2 linked regions of the Homo sapiens genome follow. The protein of the gene in region 2 purifies or fractionates together with the protein of the main gene of each other region. This does not show direct contact. Each region holds a gene or a part of one and is shown on either strand. Other genes may lie near its edges.

The links. The genes of interacting proteins can lie anywhere in the genome.
Region 1: the proteins of CCDC74A (region 2) and BTBD1 purify together in Homo sapiens (affinity purification with mass spectrometry; one large-scale study listed by BioGRID and IntAct). This does not show direct contact.

The regions. Positions count from the first base shown.
Region 1 is NC_000015.10:83,029,177-83,032,830, forward strand, and holds part of BTBD1 (BTB/POZ domain-containing protein 1), read right to left. Parts: intron 1,153-3,654; coding exon 960-1,152; intron 1-959.
Region 2 is NC_000002.12:131,530,879-131,534,311, forward strand, and holds the end of CCDC74A (coiled-coil domain-containing protein 74A), read left to right. Parts: intron 1-702; coding exon of another isoform or gene 703-728; exon of another isoform or gene 729-744; coding exon of another isoform or gene 745-785; coding exon 786-924; intron 925-1,710; coding exon 1,711-1,903; intron 1,904-1,985; coding exon 1,986-2,059; intron 2,060-2,134; coding exon 2,135-2,191; exon of another isoform or gene 2,192-2,196; intron 2,197-2,390; coding exon 2,391-2,520; 3' UTR 2,521-2,788; downstream 2,789-3,433.

The DNA of each region.
Region 1 (3,654 bases), on a different chromosome or scaffold from region 2:
TTATAATAGTCCCACATCCAACCAGATTTTTCTGTTTTAACAAACTTGTTAATTTCCAGTTTTATACTGAAGTGCTATTAAATAAATGAAAATCCAAAAGTCATGTTTTGTGAAAACCGGCACTGATTCTATTTTGACATTCAACCTAAAGAAACACAGTACAGCAAAGACAATTTCTTCAACAGGATTATACGCATGCATTTTTCAAGATTCTTGATTTTTTTCTCAAGGCTTTTATAAATGTATACTGAGATACTTTCCCTGCAACATCTATGCAAAGAAAAAACTCACACTAAACATAGTAAGGTTACATTTATTAATTGTAGCCCTAAGCCTGTAAAAATAACGTTTGATCAATTAAGGTCTAGAACTCAGCCCACTGGCAGTGGTGATCCAAACAAAAATCATGTAACAGCTGGGCGTGGTGGCTCACCCCTGTAACCCCAGCACTTTGGAAGGCTGAAGCAGGTGGATCACTTGAGGTCAGTAGTTCGAGACCAGCCTGGACAACATGGTGAAACCCCGTCTCTACTAAAAATCCAAAAAGATTAGCTGGGCGTGGTGATGCATGCCTTACAGGTTACTCAGGAGGCTGAGGTGGGAGGATCGCTTGAACCCAGAAGGCGGAGGTTGCAGTGTGAGAGATCCCACCACTGCACTCCAGCCTGAGTGACAGAGCGACTCCATCTTGGGGAAAAACAAAAAAATCACGTAACAGAAGGTCCAACCCAATCCTTTCTTACTCTATTTTTTTCTTAAGAAGTCACCCTCACTCATAAATCAGTGAGGAGGGCAGGATGCCTCAGTGACTTCTTGACTCCTATATTAACTTAACTTAAAAGTGTATTAAATGAAGTATAAAATGAAATGTTGGTTAATTATCTCCCATAATATATAAAAAAGGCCAAATGGTAACTGCTACCCCCACTCTACCCCCGCATCCCCAATATAACAGATACCTGATTCGATCACTCGTCCCACTGTAACCCCAGCGGCTTTCTACTTGCTGGAATCTATTGATGCAGCATTCCTTTCCCCTGAGACAGCATCTTGGTCGGTCAATGTATTCAACTCGGGGTTTAGGGTTGACAGTAAAATGAAGAAAGAGGTTTACCACTTCACGATCTGACAAAATTCCAGATTGAGCAGGACCTGTGGAAATAAAAACATAAGCCTAAAAAAAGGAATTTGATTTCAATTCCTAACTTTGGAATTCACTTAACGTAAATTCAAATCTAGAGGACGTAACATAAAAATAGGGGAAAAAAATCTTAGCATATATAATTTTTGCATATATTTTAAGGTTTCAATAAATCCATTTGAGGTTAAACACATTAATTAAAATGTTAAAAGCATTAATTAGTCAAAACTTAGATCCAGGAATAAATGCTATTCCTCATGGATGCCAGGAATCCTCCTTTCTCACCTTATACAAAAATCAACTCAAGATGGATCAAAGACTTAAATCTAAGAAACCATAAAAATTCTAGAAGATAGCATCAAAAAAACTCTTCAAGACATTGGCTTAGGTAAAGAATTCATGACTAAGAACCCAAAAGCAAATGCAACAAAAACAAAAACAAATGAATGAGACCTAATTAAACTAAAAAGCTTCTGCATAGCAAAATAAATAATCAGCAGAGCAAACAGACAACCCACAGAGTGGGAGAAAATATTTGCAAACTATGCATCCAACAAAGGACTAATATCCAGAATCTACAACTCAAATCAGCAAGAAAAAAAAAACAAATAATCCCAGCACAAAGTGGGCAAAGGACATGAAGAGACAATTCTCAAAGGAAGCTATACATACGTGTGCATGTGTCTTTATAGCAGCATGATTTATAATCCTTTGGGTATATACTCAGTAATGGGACGGCTGGGTCAAATGGTATTTCTAGTTCTAGATCCTTGAGGAATCGCCACACTATCTTCCACAATGGTTGAACTAGTTTACAGCCCCACCAACAGTGTAAAAGTGTTCCTATTTCTCCACATCCTCTCCAGCATCTGTTGTTTTCTGACTTTTTAATGATCACCATTCTAACTGGTGTGAGACGGTATCTCATTGTGGTTTTGATTTGCATTTTGCTGATGGCCAGTGATGATGAGCACTTTTTCATGTGTCTGTTGGCTGCATAAATGTCTTCTTTTGAGAAGTGTCTGTTCATATCCTTCGCCCAGCAGACTTGGAACCAACCCAAATGTCCATCAATGATAGACTGGATTAAGAAAATGTGGTACATATACACCATGGAATACTATGCAGCCATAAAAAATGATGAGTTCGTGTCCTTTATAGGGACATGGATGGAGGTGGAGACCATCATTCTCAGTAAACTATCACAAGGACAAAATACCAAACACCGCATGTTCTCACTCATAGGTGCGAACTGAACAGTGAGAACACTTGGACACAGGAAGGGGAACATCACATACCGGGGCCTGCTGTGGGGCAGCGGGAGGGGGAAGGGATAGCATTAGGAGATATACCTAATGTAAATGACAAGTTAATGGGTGTAGCATACTAACATGGCACACGTATACGTATGTAACAAACCTGCACGTTGTGCACATGTACCCTAGAACTTAAAGTATAATTAAAAAAAAAAAGAAGATATACAAGCGGCCAATACACATAAGAAAAAATGCTCATCACTGATTATCATACATAGGCAAATTAAAACCACAATAAGGTACCACCTTACTCCTGCAAGAATGGCCATAATTAAAAAATAAAAAAAGAAAAATAGATGTTGGCGTGAATATGGTGAAAAGGGAACTCTTTTACACTGCTGGTGGGAATGTAAACTAGTACAACCACTAAGGAAAACAGTATGGAGATTCCTTAAAGAACTAAAAAGGACTGGGGGTGGTGGCTCATGCCTGTAATCCCAGCACTTTGGGAGGCCGAGGCAGGCAGATCCCAAGGTCAGGAGTTTGAAACCAGCCTGACCAACATGGTGAAACCCCATCTCTAACAAAAATACAAAAATTAGTTGGGTGCAGTGATGTGCGCCTGTAGTCCCAGCTACTCGGGAGGCTGAGGCAGGAGAATCACTGGAACCTGCGAGGCAGAAGTTACAGTGAGCCGAGATCGCACTACTGCACTCCAGCCTGGGCAACACAGCGAGACTCTGTCTCCAAAAAAAAAAAAGAACTAAAATTAGAACTACCATTTGATCCAGCAATTCCACCACTGGATACCTACCCAAAGGAAAATAAGTCATTACATGAAAAAGATACTTGCACGTACATGTTTATAGCAGCACTACCAACTGCAAAAATATGGAGCCAACCTAAATGCCCATCAACCAACAACTGGATGAAGAAAATGTGGTATACATACACCATGGAATACTACTCAGCCATAAAATGGAACGAAACAAAGGCTTTTGCAGCAACTTGGATGAACTTGGAGGCCATTATTCTAAGTGAAGTAACTCAGGAATGGAAAACCAAATACCATATGGTCTTACTTATAAGTGGGAGCTAAGAAACTATGAGGAGGCAAAGGCCTAAGAATGATATAATGAACTTTGGGGACTTGGGGGGAATGGTAGGAGGGAGGTGAGCGATAAAAGCCTACATGTTTGGTACCATTCCCCAACATGGTGAAACCCCATCTCTACTAAAAACACAAAATTTAGCCAA
Region 2 (3,433 bases):
CCCAGCCTGGGTGGCCTCTAGGGGTGCTGACCAGGCGCCCTCTGCTGGGCCAAGCTCCAGGATTTGGGGATGAAGGTGCAGCTGAAAAGAGCCCTGCAAGCTGAAGCCACCGGGAGGGGATTAAGGGGGGGTGGGCAGGACCAGGGACCAGTCACAGGGCAGTAAGGCCTCACAGCAGGCACCCCAGGGCGGGGCAGCAAGCAGGCAGGAGGGGCCTCCCCGGGTGGCCTTCTAGGGAGGATGTACCCTGGCTGCCCAGCAGCAGCCCTGCTTGGCCGTGTCCCTGCCACAAGCAGGCAGGACACAGGAGGGATGGCACTGCCCACGGAGCCCTGGGCTCATGGCACCTTCTGCAGAGTGAGCCGGGAGCAGAGAGCCTCTTTTCCCCACTCTGTGAGGCCGGGCATTTTCCTCAGCCCTGCCCTAACCCCCACCATTCCTGTGATGGGCCCAGGTGCTAGACGGGCCTTGTCCTTGCCGAGGAAACCCATGCAGGCTGGGTCCCAAGCCTCTCATGCAGTTTCATTTTACCCAAGATGGGGCCAGCTTCCACTATGTTGATTGTTCTAGAGTGTTCACAGGCACCACCCATGGGCTTCACCCTCAGAACCACATTGATTCCCCCCAGAACCCTCCAAGGCAGGCTTCCCTTTACAGAGGAGGAAACTGAGGCAGGGACAGGGGCTTCTTGGGTACACACAGCTGTTCCTGGAAAACTTGGGCGGTGACTGTTGGTGCCTGCAGTGACCGGCCTTGTAGGGTCTGACTTGCAGCCAACTCTCAAGGCAAGGCCAGGCCCCAGCCCGGCTCCTTCAACAAGCAAGATTCAAAAGCTGACGTCTCCCAGAAGGCGGACCTGGAAGAGGAGCCCCTACTTCACAACAGCAAGCTGGACAAAGTTCCTGGGGTACAAGGGCAGGCCAGGTAAGGCTTGGGTGTTCCTGGGGTGCAAGGGCAGGCCAGGTAAGTCTTGCCTGCACCCTAAGGGCCCCATGACTACATTTACTAGGCTCACGCCCTGCAGTCAGCCAACTGCTCTGCCCCTAGCTCCAGGGGCCTGTCTCCTGGGCTCATGATAGCAGATGACGGCCACGCTCTACCCATCGGTGGGCGCTGTCTTCCTCCCTTCCCCTGGGGGTCCTGCAGAGTACCTGTGCTGACCTGAGCCCACGAGGGGGGCCAGTAGCAGCCCCTAAACCACTTCCTCAGAGAAAAGTAAAGTAATATTCTTACCAAGAGAAGGCTTGCTGCCCCTGGCCACAGCCTGCCTTTGGAGGGCACTAGGCCAGCAGGTCAGAGTAGGAACAGGTTCTGGTGATCCCTGAGTTTGCGGGACTGCCCTGAGATGCTACAGAGTGCACACTTTCAGCAGCGCAACCAGCAGGACAGGCTCCTGCATCTGCACATCCCAAGACCAGGCCTGGAGCAAGATGCCCCACTGGGTGTGGGGTCACGATCAAGAGCAGCCTGGCAGCTAGCTGGTCACCCACTGAAGCCCATCTGACCCTTAGGGCACCTTCAGAGGGGAGAAAGGGACAGGCCCCAGTCCCAGAGACCCCCACCTGGTGCCCAGAGCACCCTGCTCAGTGGGAGAGGGGAACCAGGCCCTCTTCCCCACATTGGCCTGGGCGCTGCCTGGGGAGGTATGCTGGGTGGGTGGTTAGACGCACCTGGGCAGGTCACCTCTGGCTGCTGCAATGACTGTTTCAGAAAGGAGAAAGCAGAGGCCTCTAATGCAGGAGCTGCCTGTATGGGGAACAGCCAGCACCAGGGCAGGCAGATGGGGGCGGGGGCACACCCCCCAATGATCCTGCCCCTTCCCCTGCGAAAGCCCACCACACTTAGGCAGTGCGAAGTGCTCATCCGCGAGCTGTGGAATACCAACCTCCTGCAGACCCAAGAGGTGAGGCCCTGGGTGGTGGGGGTGGCCCTGGGCAGTCTGGCACCGCCACAGGCCCCACCATGCCCCTGCCCCTGCCTTTCAGCTGCGGCACCTCAAGTCCCTCCTGGAAGGGAGCCAGAGGCCCCAGGCAGCCCCGGAGGAAGCTAGCTTTCCCAGGTGAGTGCCTGGTGCACCCCTGCCCCATCCCTGGGGTCCTATCCACAGCTCACTGCTGACTCTTCCTTCACCCAGGGACCAAGAAGCCACGCATTTCCCCAAGGTCTCCACCAAGAGCCTCTCCAAGAAATGGTAAGTCCCACAGGCATGGGGACAGTGGGGCAGCCCTGCAGCCTGGGCCCCAGGGAGGGAGTGGGGAAGGGAGGGTGGCAGCGCAGAAGCAGAGCTCGCTGAGGCCTCTCTGTGCCCCCGTGAGGGCCATGCAGGCCGCACTCCCCACACACTCCACTCCCGGGGATGCTCACGGTGACAGTCCCTCTACCCGCCCCAGCCTGAGCCCACCTGTGGCGGAGCGTGCCATCCTGCCCGCACTGAAGCAGACCCCGAAGAACAACTTTGCCGAGAGGCAGAAGAGGCTGCAGGCAATGCAGAAACGGCGCCTGCATCGCTCAGTGCTTTGAGCCACCCCAATCTGGTCAGTGCCAGGCCCACCAACCTGCAGCTGGAGACTGGCTCTCTATAGCATTTCCTGATACTTCCGCTACTTTTAGGCCTGGCTAAATTCCAAGACAGATAACACTCAAGATAGATAAAGTACTTGATCTCCAAACTGACAAACTGTTTATTTTCTAGCTGTTATTTTGCTATTTGGCATTTACATAAAAGCACACGATGAAGCAGGTATCGCCTTACCTGTTGAAACTGAAAATAAAGCTTGTTTATTTCCAAGTTGTGTGCCTGGCTCCTCACTGGCTATCAGGCGTCGCGTCCCTTCCCAGTCCCAGCCCTTGGCCTCTAGCCCAGGCCCTGCTGTCTGCAGGGACCTGCCTGGGCAGCCCAGTCTTGCGCATCCTGGGACCTGCCAGCGGCCCTGGGAGATAGGCATTGGCAGAGCCATGCACATCCTCCCTGGAAGCGGGAGGGCTTTTCTGGTCCCCTGGCTGGGCTGGAGCTGCGTTCCAAACACATGATCACTCTGTCTCTTGCCCACACTGCACACTCCTGGGGGCAAGAGGCTGTCCTCTCCTGCCCTGACACAGCACCGCAGACAGGGGGTCCAGCCAGGCTCGCCCTCCTCCTCGGAGGGCTGTCTCGAGTGCTGTGGCCATGCCCACACCACCCCTTCCGCCATAGCACAGCCATGTCCATGTCGGGGGTGGGGTGGCCAGCTTACTGCCCACCCTCAGCCAGCCACACAGTCTTCCCAGGCCCACGGCCCCACTTCGTTGGCATTAATCTCAGCCTCTTCCTGCTTCAGGGAGCAGAACTTTGCCAGGAAGCTGGGGATGAACCAGGCCAAGGAATGGGACAGTGTGTCAGAAAGGACAGCCCAGGCCCGGGGGCTTACAGCATCCTAACAGGACAGCAGGCCCA